Linked DNA regions of Homo sapiens: region 2 is linked to region 1. The links come from fine-mapping of genetic effects on gene expression. A gene starts in region 1. The other region holds a variant in brackets. All regions are shown on one strand. Distances are between the middles of the regions. Region 1 holds the start of CEP152 (centrosomal protein 152). Region 2 overlaps CEP152 (centrosomal protein 152).

Region 1 (9,560 bases):
ATTCTATGATGCAGTTCCATTTGTAGCAGTAGGAACGAGATGTAGCCAATCAAATTATGACATAACATTAATTTTAGGACGCAGTCTATGTTGTAGATATTAAAGTGTGAAAAGAAAATATGCAAGCTAGAATAGATGAATATGGTATTAAAGATTAACATACATATGAACTTCAGTGGTAAAAATCCCCCTATGACAAGTTTTTGTTTTTCAAAGACTGAGTTATGTTTCTTGGCCAACCTCTAATTTGCAGTCTACCTTCTAATCCCTTCCTCTCTGGTCCCTACACCCAACCCGTCCCTTTAAACTCATATCAACTCAGACTATACCTCAACTTAAAACCCTCCAGCCTCTGCTTCTCAGACCACACCTATTCCTTTCTACCCTTGTGACAGGGCTAAACGGGGGAAGAGACATGCATATCGAGGAAAATAAATCTATCTATAAGAATCCTTTTGTATGTCAACATAAGATGAAGATATGAATATGATAAAAAGCCTGTAACATGAAATGGTGAGGGAAAAACACACAATCTCATGTCTCTAGATTTTTTTCCACTATGCAAATAGACTTAATATTCTACAGAACACTATATATATTGAAAATACTAGCCCAATTAAATCCTATGTCCTTAAAAGAGATGCCTGTAGTCCCAGCTACTCGGGAGGCTGAGGAAGGAGAAGGGCGTGAACCCGGGAAGCGGAGCTTGCAGTGAGCCGAGATTGCGCCACTGCAGTCCGCAGTCCGGCCTGGGCGACAGAGCGAGACTCCGTCTCAAAAAAAAAAAAAAAAAAGAGATGAAATTAAGCTGGACCTTAAAGAAATTCCTGAATCCTCCAGGCAGAAAAAATCCTTTCTGTTTCTGAATTCTGTGTCTTCTACCTTTCTTTCATTCAAATATAAATACAAGACGAAATATGGAATTTGGGTTACTTTCTCCTTCATTAAGTTAGAGAAGAGAGGTTTGTTCCCATCCTTTATTAACCTGCCATCAACTGATGTTGATTATTGAAAAAGAACATTAAGATTTATAAGAGCCTATTGCTAAAAATGTAGCTACTAATATTTTAAATAGACAGCTACTTTTTCTCAGATAGAGAATACTTAGGGTTTTGTTTTTAAAGAGAATGTAAAATATCAAAGTATATATCTTTAATGTTATTTTAAATTCAAAACATGTCATTAAAGAAGACATCTAAAAATACCTGAAAAGACCAAAATCTCCCCCACTGAAGAAGGTATAAGTTTTCCTTATCAGAACTATAAACTATAAAAGACTTTAAGAAATGATTTCAGACATAAAGGGAAACCTGATCAACTTAATGTGGTTAAAAATATATATAGTAAAAAGGTAATACATATTTTAAATGAGACTTAAAATAAAAGCTAATACCTTAACTTATTAATCACCACTCATTATCACTGCTACCAGAGACTTTAGTATAATATTCAGAACAACAAAAGAGACTTCTTTAAAAAAAAAAAATAGCAAGATAGTAAATCCAAAAGCCATAAAGAAAAATGTGATGGAAACCTAACCACAAAAAATAAAATTTTGTTTAAGGCAAAAGACATCATTAACGAGTCAAATATTATATATGAAAAAATACATCAATAACAAAGTCAAGAAAAATAAGAATAAAAAAAATTTGCAAAGCACCTGACAAAGTCCCAATATAAAATTATTACAAAGAAATGAGAAAAAGACAATCCAATATAAAATTGGGCGACTGACATGACAATTTATTTTAAAAAGTGTAAATCAATTAGTTTGAAAAGATGCTTAAGCTCGTGATGTTTCAAAGAAGTGTCATTTAAACAATATGCCATTTTCAACCACTAGATTGAAAAAACAAACAAACAAAAAAAAAACTTGTTATCACCCAGTGGTGACTATTTTGTATTTTGTATGGCTCATGAGTTGCTGGTGAAAATATCAACTGCTAAACCATCTTGAAAACTATCAATATTAATATATTGAAAATTAACATTTACACTAGTAAAATTATTTTGAATTAATTTGTCAATACTATGCCACTAGTAAAAATACTGAAAATTTTCTATATCTATTGACTCAAGGCTGACCACTTGAGAAATCAAGATGCAGATTAAGTATACAGTATGTTTTGGTTTTCTTCTTCAATAGCAGTCTGGTAGACTTTCTTCCTAGATAACTTTTTCTGAACCCTTAACAAGACTATAAAAAGTATGTCTTGTTGTTACACTCAGATGGATGCTCTGACCCAGCATTCCTTTTGTTGTCCCCGGTTGTTTTCTCTGCCCTCCTTGCAACAAAAGCAATGGGTATTTGGACAAAAGATTACAAAGCAAAAGTAGCATTGTTTTTGCTTCATCTAATAAACTATAAGCACCCTGAAGGCAGAATTAAAATGTATCTGCCTGCTTGCACATGGTGGGTACATAACAAATATTTGTTGACTGAATATGATATAGGCATGTTACCTTATACGAATTCATTACTTCAATAAAATTTTATTGAATACCCACTGTGTTCCAGATCATATCCTAGATGCACCTAAGACATGGTACCAGCCATGAGGAGCTCACTGTCTCTGCTCACCCTCTCTTAGATAGAGCCACTGATATAAACAGTTACAATAACATATTGTAATAAATTCCGTAGTAGATGAAAGTACAAAGCACAAATTACTTTTCCTAAGAAGAAAGGATAGTTTAGAGAAGTTTTACAGAAAAAAAAGAGCTTTTAGATTAGAAATAAATCTTAAAGGACACAATATGGCTATAAGTGGTTCTAAGAATGAGGGCACTCATTCAGACAACCTGGGCTCAATTCTGGCTCTTCTATTTATCAGCAGTGCAATCTTGAGCAAACTGTTTCTGCTTCTACGTTAAAGAAATGGGGGTAAAAATAATACCTACTTCAAAGATTGATTCTGAGGATTCACAAGATACTACATGTAAAGTAATTAGCACTATGTACCAATCAATACATTGTAGTTTTATTACTATTATGACATTATTACTGATGAATAGGAGTCTGCCAGCTACCGAAGAGGTTTAGGGAATAAAGAGGATTCCGCATATCTGAGAAAAGGTGAATGTGCAGCCTATGAGAAATGTCACTTCTAATAATGCAACCTCCTATGGAACAAAAATGCCACCCTCCTTCAAGATGCCCTCCCAAGCCTGTTCCCCCATGGAGCTGGCCACTCCTTTGCACTTTCAGACTGTATTTCTTATGCTTTTCTTATGGCTTCAACTTCAGCTTCTCTTTAGTTGAGTGCATTCACCTGTCTAGGGAGTGCATGTTCATTGTCACGCACTATGAAGGTATAAGGTGATAATAGGCTTAAATCAGACTCAAGTTCATGACTACGATATAGGAAGGGTTATAAACCCCCACAAAAGGGGTTTCTAAGAACTGCACTTGGAGTTGGGAAATTCTACTTACTTGCTGACATAACTCGCCTTCTAGAATGGAAATAGCCAGAGCACATAGCCCGGTTTAGACTTGCAACACCTGGTGGAGACACCTTATTCATTCATTCGACAATTTACCAAGCACTGTTCAAGATTACAAAGTTTAACAGGACACGATGAAGGGAAAGAAAATAGACATATAAACAAATGATCACAACATCTTGTGATCAGTGCTAATAACAGCACTTTGGACAAATTGATTCAAGTTGCCCAGAGGGCGGAGCGAGTAATGCTAATACACAATAAGCATCCACAGGCTGAGCGAATGACCTTGAGGAACTGTTTGGCGTCAGCTACGGCACTACAAACATGACCAAAGCCGCACGGGGCCCAGGATGCCCGGGGCTACTGGCTTCGGGTGCCAGCGTCACTTGTACTCGGTCAACACACGTGCACAGAGCACCTACTGTGAGCCAGGCGTGACGCCAGGGTGACCAAGGCGGGGTCCGCAGAGTAGGGTCTCAGGGCGACCCCAGCAGCCTGGAAACGAGGCGGGCTTCCCATATGTCACTTCTAAGTAGGATATTGGAGGAATGAAGAGGTCTAAATGACACGTTAAGGTAAAAGCTGAGCCCGCAACATGCGGGCAGTCCACCACCGCGGGATTTGGGGAGGGGGCAGGTCAGCCCCCCCAGGAACCCTCAGCCAGCATCCCGAGGACCCCGCAACTCCTCTAACCCCAGGTCCAAGCTCACCCGTGAATCAGAACTTACCGGAGGCCACGGAGGCTGTTACCGCGAGGAAACTCTAGTCCTGGCGGAAGACCAACTTCTAGCAGATCCCCTTACCCTGGCTCTAGTCCACTAGCTCCTTCCTAGTCACAACCGAACTCACGGGGCGGAGGCCCTTAAGGAGCACTCGCATCCTTCAATCGCCGACTAGAAGCTCGCCCGGTGGGCGGAGCCGTGCCAGCTCAGGGCAGAGCGAGGAGGCAGAAGTCTCCGCCTTCCTCAAGCTTGGTTGAGAAGTCCACCTGCAGTTGCAAAGTACGGCTGTTTGAAAGCGGGCGCCAGAGGTGGCGGGAAGCTCCCCCTGTGCGCCCATTGGTGGATTCGAGAGCCAATTACGAGGAAGTCACCCCGGAGTGGGCGGGCTGATCGGTTGCCTAGAGACGCCGAGGCGCTTCACCCGCTACCTTCGGCCAGGGTGCAGCAGTCTTACGGGGACCCCTTGCCCGTTTGGTACCGGAGACTGCAAAGGTGACTCGTGCCTCCTGCGCTTCAGCACACAGAATCCCGCAGATTCCCCACCGAACTCTTGCCTTAGAGGTTTTTTACATTTGCCCTTGTTTTCTAAGGCGCCTGCTTCCCCATTATTTAACAGCCTTAGATATTTTGCTTTGTCTTCTACCTTACTAGGTGCCGCTTTGTTTACATTTTTGCTTCTTTAATTACTGATAAGATGGCACATTTTTCCACGTGTCTATTTACTACTCTAATTTCCTCGGGTGTGAGTGTTCTTGTCACTTAGGTGTATATTATTAACCTGCCCCTAAAGACAGCGCCACCCAGTCCTCAGTAAAGCCCAGTACTGTGTCTATCTTCTCTGGCTGAAAGGGTTCCAGTGAATAATCAAGGAATTGGTGGCGGCAGGTTCACATATCCTTTCAACCCTTTCCCATGTGTACTGGCACGGAGTAAAATGGTTGTTCGAGGCTCTTCATACTGTGGCTGGTTTTCCTTTGCTACTTCACCGTCCGCCCCCATGATGCCTACACTGACCCCTGTAACCCCATAAACTGGTATAGGGTTTGGCAAACAACAGGTAATTTAACCCACTGTAATAGAATGAACGAAATCACAGCCTGAGCTAACAATGGTTCCCAGAGCGCTTTTTTTCTTTCACCTGCTGTGAAAGCTGTTTCTTTCACCTGCATCGCCTCTACCTTCTCCTGCTACTTAGTTTTGAAGACAGACTAGCACCTCCTTTGAAGCCTTTCATGACACACACTCCCTCACTTCGCAAAAATGATCTTTCCTACCTCTGTACACAGTGTATCCTATATATCCTATTATAGTTCTTTTATCTACTGTAAGTTTTTGTGTGTCTTACACTCAGTACAACGTGAATATCTTGAAGTACTCACTTTACTTCTTGGGTGTCTAACATGACCCTGGTAGGCACTCAAAACAATTATGTTAAATGAGTAAATGAATAAATGAACAAATAGATGAAGATTTTGGCAGGGGGGCAGGCAGAAAAAGCAAATAAAAGGCCTTCAAGTAAATGGCATTTGTTGAATCTGAGCCAAGGCATCTTAGTGAGAATTAAATGCACTTTTCACTTTTCACATCCCACTGAAGTCGATTGGCAAACTGTATGTTGCATTCTGTGCTGAGGGTTATGATGGAGTGCTGCAGCAAGAATGCCAGGTGATCCCCATGCACAAACAACTGCTTCTTAGAAGGATGAAAGCATAAAACGTGTCAGGGTAAGCACATGAGGAGGCAGTGTTTATAATCCATTACACAGTGCTTTACAGATTGGTAAATTCTTTCACAAGCATCATCTCATTTGGTTCTCACTACAACACTGTGGGGGGTTAGGACAGGTATTCCTACCCATTTTCCAGTTGAAGAAACTTACATAAAAATAAATTAAATGACTTGTCCAAGGCTACACAGCTAATACAAGGCAGACAGAATCTGAAACCAGGTCCTTTATCTCCAAACCCAGAGCTCATCACTACATACAAAATATTTTAGTGAGACTAGCATATACGTGACAAAGAGGGAAAATAAAGAATAAATCAACCTCCCATCCTGCCATGCCTCTAAAAATGGTTTTTGGTGGAGTTATGGATATATTCAACTAAATTTCTTTGACCACCTATCCTGTTTAAGTCCTGGCCTAGGTGCAGGGTAGGACCCCTATGCTCAAGGTACCAACACTCTGAGTTACAAGATGCTTACGTAGAAAGATAAATAATAATAAAAATTGTTTACTAAGTGTAATAAGAGTAGAATAGGCAATAATTCTAGGGAAAGTGAACACCTAAAGATGAATCTATCAAGGCAGGTTCAAGGAAGAAGAGAAGGAGAGAGCTCAACAGGTCAGTTGATTAGCATGAGTGCAATTTAAAGGCCAGACCAGCAAAAGTGCAGGAATCTTACATTTAGATGTAAGTCTGGAGAAGAAGGCAGGAAGGAGGTGGTCCATAGAAGAGCTTTAAGCCTGGGAGAATAGGAAGGGCATTCTACAGAGGTCAGGTAATGGTGTGCACAAGGAATGAATCTAACATCCAAAGAAACACAAGCAGACAGAGGCATTCTGGGATAAGAAAGGCAAGTGTGGGAGAAGAAAGTAAAACTGCCAAAGATCTCAAATGCTGGACAAAAGATTATTTGTGAAACGTTGGCTCGATGTTTACCTTGCATGTTTTAAATGGGCACACCTATGAGCTGGGTGAGACATTTCAAGAGAAAATGTCACATTGTTGATGAGATGGGGTCCCTCCCACTAACAAGCATTTATAAAGGTAAAGCTAAACCATTATTTCTCCTTTTTCCTCCTTTTTGGTGTCAAAGCTATCAGGTCAAAGCAATGTCATCACAGGAGTGCTATCCAAAGTGCTATCATCAAGGAGTACTATCTTCAAAGGAACACAGAACTTAGAGTAAGAAGATCTGAGTTCAAGTCCCAGTTCTCCTACCTACTAGCATTGTCCATAACAATTTAACACTCAAAAGCCTCAAAGTCCTTATCTGAAAATAGGGATGATAATACCCACTTCTCAGGATTGTGGCCAAAAAAAAATGAGATGAGATTGTGAGAAACAGCTTTTAAATGTAAAAACATTATTTTCCATTGTGTTTCTATGTACTATGGCTTATTGGATTAGAGTACACACTGGGGTCTGAGGTAGTAAGGAAAAACCAGGAAGGTGTTCTGGGAGTGGATGGCAGAGAAAGACAAGGGTGAATGTGTGCCGAGGGCAACAGGAGCTTATGGGATGGGACAAACAAAGAGTCTACACAAAGGATATGGCTTCATGAGAACAGGACAAAAATAGGAAGTGCTAGAGATGGAACAGGAGTACTTGGAAAGAACCAAGGAAGATCAGACCATTATTTACATCTTATTCAACAGTATTTTGGGAACACCTACTTTGTGCCAAACACTGTGCTGGGATCATTTAATATTGACATGTGGATCAAAATGCCCACTCTGCTCAAGTCCCTTCTCACAGAATCTGCTCCTGCTCACAGTCATTATGACCTCACCACCATCACCATCCTACCACCCACGGTCCTGGCCAGACTTGACTGAATCAAAGGGGAACACTAGACCCAAGCTGGGCCAATCGTATTCCCTTCCCAGATAACTAAGATTCCACAAAACTGAGCAAGGTGGTAGCCATACAGAGGAGAAGCAGACTTTTATTACACTTGCCTGTATTTTATGGGAAATATGCTTCCTCCATAACTGTGTCATATACATGGTAGACCCTAGACTGAAGATCATGAACTTTTGCCACTGAAAGCCATGTATCTGTCTGGTTCCTGTACTTTGAAAAGCCAGACAGTTTAGCTTTTCCTTGCATTCTGTGATAACTAAACCTTAAAAACTTTTTGACTTGAGCTGGCTTGGGTCATTGTAGAGGTTGAATCATGTTCCCTAAAATTTCATGTCCACCTAGAACTTCAGAATGTGACTTTATTTGGAAATATGGTTTTTGCTGATACAATTGTTTAATATGAGCTCATTCGGGATTAAACTTAGGTAAAGCTAAACCATCATTTCTCCCTTTTCCTCTTTTTTGGTGTCAAAGCTATCAGGTTAAAGCAATGTCATCACAGAAGTGCTATGCAAAGTGCTATCAGCCTTAAGTCTAATGACTGGTGTCTTCATAAGAAGAGAGGACACAAAGAGACACATAGGGAGAAGACAGCCATGTGAGGGTAAAGGTGGTGATTGGGGTTAGATTGCCATAGGCCAAGGAACGTCTGGGGCCACCAGATGCTGGAAGAGACAAGAAAGGATTTTTCCCTAGAGCCTTTGGAGGGAGCATGGCCCTACCACATCTTGATTTCAGACTTCTATCTTCCAGAACTGTGAGAGAATAAACTTCTGTTGTTTGCGGTATTGGTTACAGTAGCCCTAAGAAGTTAATAAAGGTAGGTTTACATTCTTGGCAACCAAACATTCATGACTAAGATACATTTTTAGTGATTATATTTGAAAAGTCTAGACCAGTGATACTCCAAATAGGGCCATGGTCCACTGGTATACCTCATTTGTATTAAATGATACAAATGCCCAAGGCATTTCTTCAATTATCATAGGAAAATAATTTGTAGATTTTTATTTTTACATACAATTAGAAATCCACCAAGTAAGATATAGGAAGTTACTAATGTTAAGAATTTGTAAATTAAAATGAGTGCATTTTTCGGGTTTATCAAGAATGATCATCATTTGGATGTGCAATATTACAAAGCTCTTGCTCATGCACAGTTGAAGGTAATTGGAATTCCCAGTTTTGGAAGGAGGATGTTAATAGCACCATTCCCCCAGGAAGTCATGGTCTTTACGAGCTGTTATTACTGTTTATTTATTAACTATGTTTGGCTTCATCAATATCAAGTAAGCTTATTGTGAGTTGTTTGATTAAACCAACTCTATGTAGTGTTAACTACTTTAAATATTTTCACTTTTTCTATAGCGACTTTAAAATAATATACATTTGGGTGGGGCGCCATGGCTCATGTCTGTAATCCCAGCACTTTGGGAGGCTAAGCCCGGCAGATCACCTGAGGTCAGGAGTTTGAGACCAACCCAGGCAACATGGCGAAACCCCGTCTCTACCAAAAATATAAAAATTAGCAAGGCGTGGTGGCACATGCCTGTAGTCCCAGCTACTTGGGAGACTGAGGGAGGAGAATCACTTGAACCTGGGAGGCGGAGGCTGCAGTGAGCTGAGGTCAGCCACTGCACTCCAGCCTGGGCAACAGAGCGAGAGTCTGTCTCAAAAAACTAAATAAATAAATAAAATAATAGACATTTAGAGGTTCGAGTTCTTATTACTAAAACAATCAACTTGTAATTCCTCTGAAATTTGCTTATACTTTATGAAAATATGCTGGCTATGAATTTTT
Region 2 (9,560 bases), 21 kb before region 1:
CATGACACTTCCATGAATGGGAGGAGGTAAAAGTCAGTTTGGTGGAGAGAGTCCAGGCGATAGTTTACTAGGAGAGAATTATGACATTGGAGGAACACTATGAGCTCCAAGAAGCCCATTTCTTTCACCTTTTCTGTCTCACTAAACAAATTCAAGGGAAAATCAGCCAAAAAAAAAGAACTATTATAATATGTTGTGAGTGCATACAATCTTTTCTACCCAGAAAAGCTGCTGTCTTAAGAAAAACACTAATAATTTTACAATCCATAAATTTCTCAAAATATACTAATTACAGACATTTTGTTTTTAATTTTAGATTCAGGGGATATGTGTATAGGTGTGTTACATGGATATGTGGCATGATGCCGAGGTCTGGGCTTCTGTTAGGCGCTTTGGAATCACCACTTTGCAAAGCAGCTATGCAATTATATGCAGAGCCTAACATCAGTGCCATGCTCTGTTAAAAAAAATAATAATAAAACAAAGTAAAAATAGGCAAAGAACGTAACAGTGGGAAAAGACCTTAACACCTTCAATTTATGGATTCCGGGGTCTGAAACCCACCCAGCACAGAATCAAGAATTTGTTCTGACTTTACTGTAGAGTTCTTCTATTGAAGGGGGTGGGGCAGTGGACAACAGAGTAATGCAGTGGGCACAGGGGTAGAAAACACTAGAAATTCCTTCCAATCCATCCCTAATGAAACTGTGTTTAAGTCAACAGAGAATGGAGACCCCCAACCCAATAAGGAAAAGCCACCAGGATCCACTCTTCTCCAGTCATCCAAGAAGGGCTACTGTCCAAGTCCAACTAACTTCAATGTTACCCTATGTTTGGCCAAAACTAACTTTAAAATAAAATAAAATAAAAATTTATGAAGCTACATCTCAAATTCTGTTTAAATATTCTATAAAGTAGACTTTTCAATAATTTGGTATAGCCTTCGTTTTTTTTTTTTTTTTTTTCTGGAAAAAGAGTCTCACTCTGTTACCCAGGCTGGAATGCAGTGGTGCAATCATGGCTCACTGCAGCCTCGACCTCCTGAGCTCAAGCAATCCTCCCACCTCAGCCTCCCAAGTAGCTGGGACTACAGGCGCATGCCACCATGCCCAGCTAATTTGTTATTTTTTCTTCGTAAAGACAAGGATTCACTATTTTGCCCAGGCTAGTCTTGAACTCATGGGCTCAAGTGATCCACCTGCCTCAACCTCCCGAAGTGCTGGGATTACAGGCATGAGCCACCGTAACTGGCCTTCATCTTTCCCTACTCCTATATATCCTCCACATTGATCAAATTCACAATTTTTTTATATAAAATAAATACATAATGAAATAGATATAATAAAAACACACATAAATACATGTAAAAATAAAATAAAATGATAAATAATTATTGCCAGTAATGCACTCTTATATAGTTCTACCTAAAAGCATGGAAAAATTAGAGGCAGCTATATAGGTCAGAAATAACCCAAATCAGCATGAATTTTAAGTGTGGTGAAATTTTCCATACCCTCACATCTGATTTTTCTTCTCTCCTTCCCTTAAGTTAAATCAATTTTGAAATTACATTAAGAAAAATAAATTCTGAAATGTTATTCACTCAAGTGATTACCTAGAGTTATGGAGCACAAGCAAACTCACCACCTGACTCACATTTAGCTTTCAATATTTTATTCCCCCTTGAGTGAAAATAATAAAAATTCACTGTGCAATATGCTCAAGATGCAAATCTCATTAAGTCTAGATCAGACTGTCTTATTTTATAAATTATACTGTCCTCAAAATTTACTCTCTTCCCAAGAATCATTTCTCAACAGACTGTATTGCTGTATTGACAGGTGAATTACCAAATGCTGGGAGACTCAAGTAAGGTTTTCTACTGGTTAAGCTTCCAAGGTAACCTCTCAAGTTCTAGCCAGCCGCTGGCAGACTCATTTGTTTTGGTCTGGATTTATTCTAGGACCATATAAACAACATACACAAATACCCTACAAATAAAGGACAAGTAATGTGAAAGTTGAGAAAGTACTAATAATCGTATAAGAAGTAGGGTTTCCAAAAGTATACCTTTAGGATGTATTCTCAGATTAAAATATCACTGGCTTCTTTTTTTTTTTTTTTTTTTTTTGGGGAGACGGAGTCTCGCTCTGTCGCCCAGGGTGGAGTGCAGTGGTGCGATCTCAGCTCACGGCAACCTCTGCCTCCCGGGTTCAAGCAATTCTCCTGCCTCAGCCTCCCGAGTAGCTGGGATTACAGGCACGCACCACTGCGCCCGGCTAATTTTTTTTTTTTTTTTGTATTTATAGTAGAGACGGGGTTTCACCAAGTTGGCCAGGCTGATCTTGAACTCCTGACCTCAGGTGATCCGCCTGCCTTGGCCTCCCAAAGTACTGGGATTACAGGCGTGAGCCATTGCGTCCAGCCAATATCACTGGCTTTTAAGTTTCACTCACCTCACACACAATCTAACATTTACTACAAACATCCAAGACTTCTATATGATGAACCATAAAATATCAGTTACAAAACATAACCAGCTTTACTTGTTGATAACAGTTGCTCATTTGAAATCATCCCAACCTGTTCTTTAAGTGCGGTGACTGTGGCATCCAAATTCTTTTGTAAGGACAATACTTGCTCTTCGTACTTCTTTGTGAGGCCCATAACAATGCTCTCATGCTGTTCTCTAGCTCGTTGAAGTGATTCAGAATGATGAAGGTCCACCAGCTGCTGCTTCAAGCTTTCCAGAGCCATTTCAGTTGTTCTGGACTTCTTGATCATCTAGTAAATACACACAGGATATCCATGTTTAAAATATACACAGAGTATTTTAGCTCTGTGCTGTCTATAAACTTTTACTTTTACTATAAAATAAAACTCAAGCATGTTTTAATGAGAGTAGAGAAGGGGTCTCCGCTCATCATGGCTCAAGCTCCTTAAAACAACCCTAGCTGGGACCCTCCAGGCCCATAGTTGTTGGAAACAATGTTCCCTGAGAAAATACATTTGGTAGATACCTGAGGGGAGTGAAAGAGGATTTTGCGCAGCATGATGGATGTGGCTATCAGGCACGGAATCTGCTGATGCCGTGATGGCCCCAGTGCTGTTTGCATTGCTCTATGACCAAAGTGTGGGGTAACCCAATTGTTAGGTCACAGAAAAATGACAACTGTTCCTTGAAAGACTGATGAAACCTGCCAATGGTCACTTACTAAAAACAAAGTTTTCAAAGCTGTAACTGCACAGTTGGTATTGTAGGCAAAATCATAGCCCTCCAAAATGACCGTGTCCTAATCCCCAAAACCTGTGAATCAGTTATATTACATGGCAAGGGAAAATTAAGATTGTATGTGGAATTAATATGGCTAATTAGATTGCCTTAAAATAAGGTGAGTAGCCTGGATTATCCAGGTGGGCCCAATGTAACCACAGGGTCCATAAATGAGAAAAACTAAGGCAGAAAAGTCAGAACCAGAGAGACTCAATCAGCCATTCATTGCTGGCTTTGAAGATGGAAATGGGCCACAAGCTAAGGAACACAGGTGGCCTCTAGAAGTTGGAAATAGCAAGAAAATGGATTCTCCCCTAAAGCCTCCGGAAAGCAATGCAGCCTTGTTGACACCCTGATTTTAGCCTAGTGAGATCCATGTCAGACTTCTGACCTCCAGAACTGTGAGATAAATTTGTATTGTTTTAAACCACTGAATTTGTGGTCATCTGTTACAGCAGCAATAGGAAACTAATACACTTGGTGATTCTGCTGCTTACATAAAAAAGATTACAAAGTTATAACCTTTTACTACATAAAGGCAACTTAACTTTTTAATCTAATAACTATTGGTTTTCAAAAAGTTAAAAATAATCTACATTACATACAAAAATTAAAATTTCAAGAGAATTATTCTTCATTCTATTCCAGAGATTGCCTATTTATTCCAATACTGCTTTCATGGCTAAGAGATCCATCCACTGAATGACACAGATCATTTGTGCCAGGCAGGGTTCTAAGCACTAAGGACATAATGACCAAACAGAAAAGGTCTAAGCTCTTACTACTTTCTAGTGGGAAGAGACAATAAATAACAAGTAAA[C/T]AAATGAGATCATTTCAGATAGTTATAGAGTAATAGAATATGGCATGATGAAGGTGAGTTGGAGGATGGAGCTATGGGCTACCTTACATATAAAGTGAATAGCAAGTCCTCTGAAAAGGTAATTGTTTTTAGCTAAGACCTGAAGGATGAGGAGAAGCCAGACATGAGACAACACTGTTTAAACTCTTTCATTAAACCATCCTCAGACTTAGCTACAAGTCTCACTCAAAACCAAGCTCATTATTTCATAGTCACTTTCATTTTTTTTTTCTTCAGACAAGTCTCGCTCTCGTCCCCCAGGCTGGAGTGCAATGGAGCAATCTCAGCTCACTGCAACCTCCGCCTCCTGGGTTCAAGCGATTCTGCTGTCTCAGCCTCCAGAGTAGCTGGGATTACAGGCATCTGCCACCACGCCCAGCTAATTTTTGTACTTTTTAATAGAGACGGGGTTTCACAATGTTGGCCAGGCTGGTCTCAAACTCCTGACCTCAGGTGATTCGACCGCCTCGGCTTCCCAAAGTGCTGGGATTACAGGCGTGAGCCACTGCATCCGGCCATCACTTTCATTTTTAACCCTGCCCCCTGCCAAAAAATGAATCAACCACCACCAGGCTTAGCTACCAATGACTTATGACTATTTCCAAAAATCAAATGGCTATCTCATTAATCAAAGAATGTGAATGTGTCACCACTTTAAACTCAAGTTTAAAAAACAGTTCTCCAAATGGAGAAGCAGCAGGAAAAATAAAAATAAAAGCTTCTCGGGATACCAATTCTGAAGCAAACTATTGCAGTCAGGAAATTTAAGTTCTAATGCTTTGTCAATAACTTCAAAGTTCTTCTAAATTTAGTCCTACCCTACAAAAAGTTTTGTTAAATAACTAAACTTTTAATTTTTTTACCATACATAAGTTAAAATAGGTACCTGTTCTTCATTGACTTTTAATGCTTGTATCTGAGTCTCCAGTGCTTTTATTTGAGCTTCAAGCTGTATCTCTCTTTCTTTTCCATTCTGAAAGAGTTTCTGTGATTCTCGAAGGCTGAGAGTCAAACCATCCTTTTCATCTACGGTATTAAAAATGTTTATATAAATAATGTTCCTGTAGAGGGACCCCAATGTCACAATCCCAATCAGATGTCACGTCTGTATCATATATAAATGTTGTTGAATTAAATTTAATTCAGAAAAATGAACTTTAGTTGATTTAGAGAAAACTAAATAAAGAATTTACTTACTTACTTATTTATTTATTTTGAGACAGCGTCTCACTCCGTCGCCCAGGCTGGAGTACAGTGGTATAATCTTGGCTCACTACAACCTCAGCCTCCCCAGTAGCTGGGATTACAGGCACCTGCCACCACTCCCAGATAATTTTTATATTTTTAGTAGAGATGGGGTTTCACTATATTGGCCAGGCTAGTCTCGAACTCCTAACCTCAAGTGATCCACCCACCTTGGCCTCCCAAAGTGCTGGGATTACAGGCGTGAGCCACCTCACCCAGCCCCAAATAAATAAATTATTAAAAATTAAAAATTAAAAAAAAAAACAAACCTGATACCAAAAAAATTTTTTTAGAGAAGCAGAACTACTTCCTTTAAAACTATTATTGCATCCCTTTTGGGGACAAATCCCTGCTAATCAAAGAAGTTATCTGAGGACTAATTATCCTACACATACTTGCAATGAACTCTTTTTTTTGAAACGGAGTTTCGCTCTGTCGCCAAGCTGGAGGGCAGAGGTGCAATCTCGGCTCACTGCAAGCTCCGCCTCCCAGGTTCACGCCATTCTCCTGCCTCAGCCTCCTGAGTAGCTGGGACTACTGGCGCCACCACACACCCAGCTAATTTTTTGTATTTTTAGTAGAGATGGGGTTTCACCATGTTAGCCAGGATGATCTCGATCTCCTGACCGCGTGACCCGCCCTCCTTGACCTCCCAAAGTGCCGGGATTACAGGAGTGAGCCACCGTGCCCGACCCACTTGGAATGAACTCTTAAATTCACCTAATGTTAAATTCTTCCCACATACTTTGCTATAACAGCTCACAAGTTCTTCTCTCAAAATAAATGTTATGAGCATTACAGAAAGAGACATTTTTACCATCAATTAAATTTGAAATGAGCTAGAGTTCAATCACAAAAGTATTCTGCAAATGAAAGTTCAACGTGGACCAAAACTAGAGAAAGCACAAGGAGTAAGCAATTATAATTTGAATCTGTATTTACTCTGTGTGTTTATCCCAGACATGGCACTTCACAATCACTAACTCTTATTTGGATTAAAACGTTTATGCTAATTTGTAGCCTCAGGAAACGCTGCAGTGCAAACTAAACACAAATCACTCTGAAAGCTGGAATACTTCATCCAGAGTAATGACATAAGGAATCAGACATAAGGAATCAACAACTTTTTAGGACAGAATGCCATCAGTACAGTTAAATAATGTTCAATGATTCTAAAAGCCTAAGTGAGAAAAGGGAAAATATAGGGACTCCAAAATAGAGTGTCTTTTTTTTTTTTTTGAGACAGAGTCTCACTCTGTCACCCAGCCTGAAGTGCAATGGCGCTTTCTCGGCTCACTGCAACCTCCGCCTGCAGGTTCAGGTGATTCTCCTTCTCCTGCTTCAGCCTCCCAAGTAGATGGGATTACAGGTGCCTGCCACTATGCCCCGCTAATTTTTGTATTTTTAGTAGAGACAGGGTTTCACCATGTTGGCCAGGCTGGTTTTGAACTCCTGATCTCAAGTGATCCGCCCACCTCAGCCTCCCAAAGTGCTGGGATTACAGGCGTAAGCCACCATGCCTGGTCTCCAAAACAGCGTGTTCCAAAGAGAAGTAATCCAAGGCCAACACTCAGAAATCCTGGGTTTTGTTTTGCTATGCCTCACTCACTATGAGCCCTCTGACCAAGTGTTTTTACTCTCTAAGCTTCGTATGTAATCTGAGGTTATTGGAAACAAGATATCTAACTCAGTGTACCTCATAAATGACAGCATCCAGCATCTTACCTTTTATTATTACAAGCTGGTGATTCAGATATCGAATTTGACGTTCACTTTCATTTAACTTTTCAATTAAGTTCTCCAGTTGTCTCTCTTTTGCTTTGTTAAGAACCTGAAGTTGAATAATCTGCATATTTTCTGCAGAGTCTGGGAATTAAAGACAATTTATTAGATAAAAACATACCAAAATATAAATTTATAGTCATTTAAAGCAGTGTTTTTCAAACTGTGACTACAACCTTTTAGAGCATCATGAAATCAATTCAGTGAATTGTGACTAGGATTAAAAAAGAGAGAGAGAATATATCAGAGTGCATCATGTAGTAAGAAACAGTCTTATTTTGTGAAACTTGTTTCATTTATATATACCTGTTCATATAGATACATGTTGTACACCATATCACAATGTAAAAAAATATAGTTCTTACAGTGGGTCACTGATAGGAAAGTTTGAAAGTCACTGGTTTAAGTTATAACCCTGAATCACTAACTACCATTTTAGCCAGTTAAAAATCAGTATATAACAACTGCAATGAAATAAAGTAATATGCTGTCAGAAAATTAAAAACAAAACAAGTACATCAGCTTCTATAAAATCATTTTTAAAGAAAATTTCTAGACAGCCTCAAAATATTTTATTTTAGGCAGGAGTGGGGAAAATATTATATTTATATTGATGCTGGCACATAACTGAATTAATTAGCTAGTGAATAGATTAATCAAGAATTTTGGGGAGGGAGCAGGGGAGAAGGGTTGAAAAACTATCCATTGGGTACTATGTTCACTATTTGGGTGATGGGTTCACTAGAAGTCAAACCCCAGCATTATTTAATATACCCATATAACAAACCTCCAAATCTACTCCACGAATACATAATTTAAAAAAAAATTTTTGAAGTCTTCTTTTAGAAACAATTAGTCATTTGGGGACCACTTTAAAAAGAGAAAAAAAATGGAAAAAAGGATTGGTAGGTATGCTTCAACTACATAATGATAAATATTCTACTTACTACTAGAACAATGTTTCTGTTAGCTTACAATCAGAAATAAATGCATTTACTGAGTTTTAACCACTTGCTAACTAAATAATTCTGTCCTCTTTTTAGAAAGAGATCTGGTTAAATAAAGAAAATTAAAGACTGAAAAGTTTATACAAGTCAAACTCCTCATAGGTCTTATAGTAGAGCTAGCCCCATCTCCAAATTTTTTAAATTACTGTTGCTAAGAAACTATAATCACTAATTTGGCACTACCATTAAGTTATTTAATTAACTTCCAAATGTCAAATTTAGACAAATGTGTAACTGACTCAACTTGAAGAAGTGCAGAGTGTTAAGAAAGGTAAGGAAAGGTTTTTATATGCAGAAAGACCAGGAGATACAAATACAACTTTTCAAGGGAACTGAAAGAGTAAACACTAAGGAGATGTCAGGCCACTGCTGTGAGGTTCATTTACTCAACCTAAAACCAGTTATGTCATATACACTGTCCACTTCCTCATTCCACAAAAAACTTAAGAACAAAGAGAGGCCATCCTCATATTTGCTGTTGACTCCTTCAGGGGAAAATGAATTCTGGGCCTCCCCCTGTAACTACCCTGCCGTCCCAGTGTACGATGGAAGCAACAATATGAAGTCACAACCCAAAAGTCCAGTTTTCTCTTTGGTATAGCCCAGGTAAGCCAGAATATCCAGTATGACCTTTCCCCTACTAATTAAAGGGAAACAAAAAGTAAAACAAAAACACTTGCTGCCACACTCTAGAATTACACTGGCTCTTCAATATGCACAATAATTAGAAGCTATTTAGTGTGCCAGACAGTATGACAAGAGTAATTCAGTACAGTCACTATACGGGTTTATATTTTGGGATTTTTGTTTTTTGATACTAGCATTTCATCTCAGAATTCTCTAGTACCTATAAGCACTTTTTTCATTCTCATATTTATATACATACTATACAAAAAAAACTGGCAAATGCCACATGACTGAACCTGATATCTAAGTAATTCTGAATATAAACTAATTTATATCAGAGTTGACTAAAAACTGTAAAATCAAAAGAAAAAAGTTGATGATAGTGCTGATGTATTAAATTACACTTCTATATAGTCAAAAATCTGAGATTGAAAACTATGTTTCATTTTCCAAATTAGGCTTCAGTCAAAAAAATATATAAAGTTCATAAAAAGTCTTTTAAAATTTTTTTAAATTTCAAATAAGTCCAGGTATCCTGTATGATAGGCGAGGATACTTAACACTATACAAATAAGGAGAAAAGGCTTAACAAACTAGAATGACTGAAATATAAAGTTGGAAAAATGTCTTTTAACTTTTCATTACGAAAAATTTCAAATATATAAGAAAGTAAAGAGAATAATATGATGAATCTCCACGAACCCATCTCCCAGATTCAACAATTATGAACTCATGGCCAATTTGGCCACATCTATATTCCCACCCA

The links.
Region 2: its variant is fine-mapped to the expression of CEP152 in whole blood (TOPMed, PIP above 0.99).

Annotation. Positions count from the first base shown.
Region 1 is chr15:48,806,786-48,816,345 of GRCh38, forward strand. CEP152 (centrosomal protein 152) reads right to left here and starts at 4,284. Exons shown (of 27, transcript NM_001194998.2): 1 at 4,176-4,284. It overlaps LOC124903487 (a long non-coding RNA gene), which reads left to right and starts at 3,913. Exons shown (of 2, transcript XR_007064626.1): 1 at 3,913-4,022; 2 at 4,146-5,124. RefSeq lists enhancers at 711-1,211, 3,434-3,995, 4,654-4,713 and a silencer at 4,288-4,478.
Region 2 is chr15:48,786,218-48,795,777 of GRCh38, forward strand. CEP152 (centrosomal protein 152) reads right to left here. Exons shown (of 27, transcript NM_001194998.2): 7 at 7,104-7,244; 8 at 5,020-5,159; 9 at 2,584-2,784. Among named protein-coding and RNA genes, the nearest start is that of CEP152, 20 kb to the right of the region's middle. RefSeq lists an enhancer at 8,616-8,895. The variant C/T (reference allele first, on the strand shown) is at 4,095.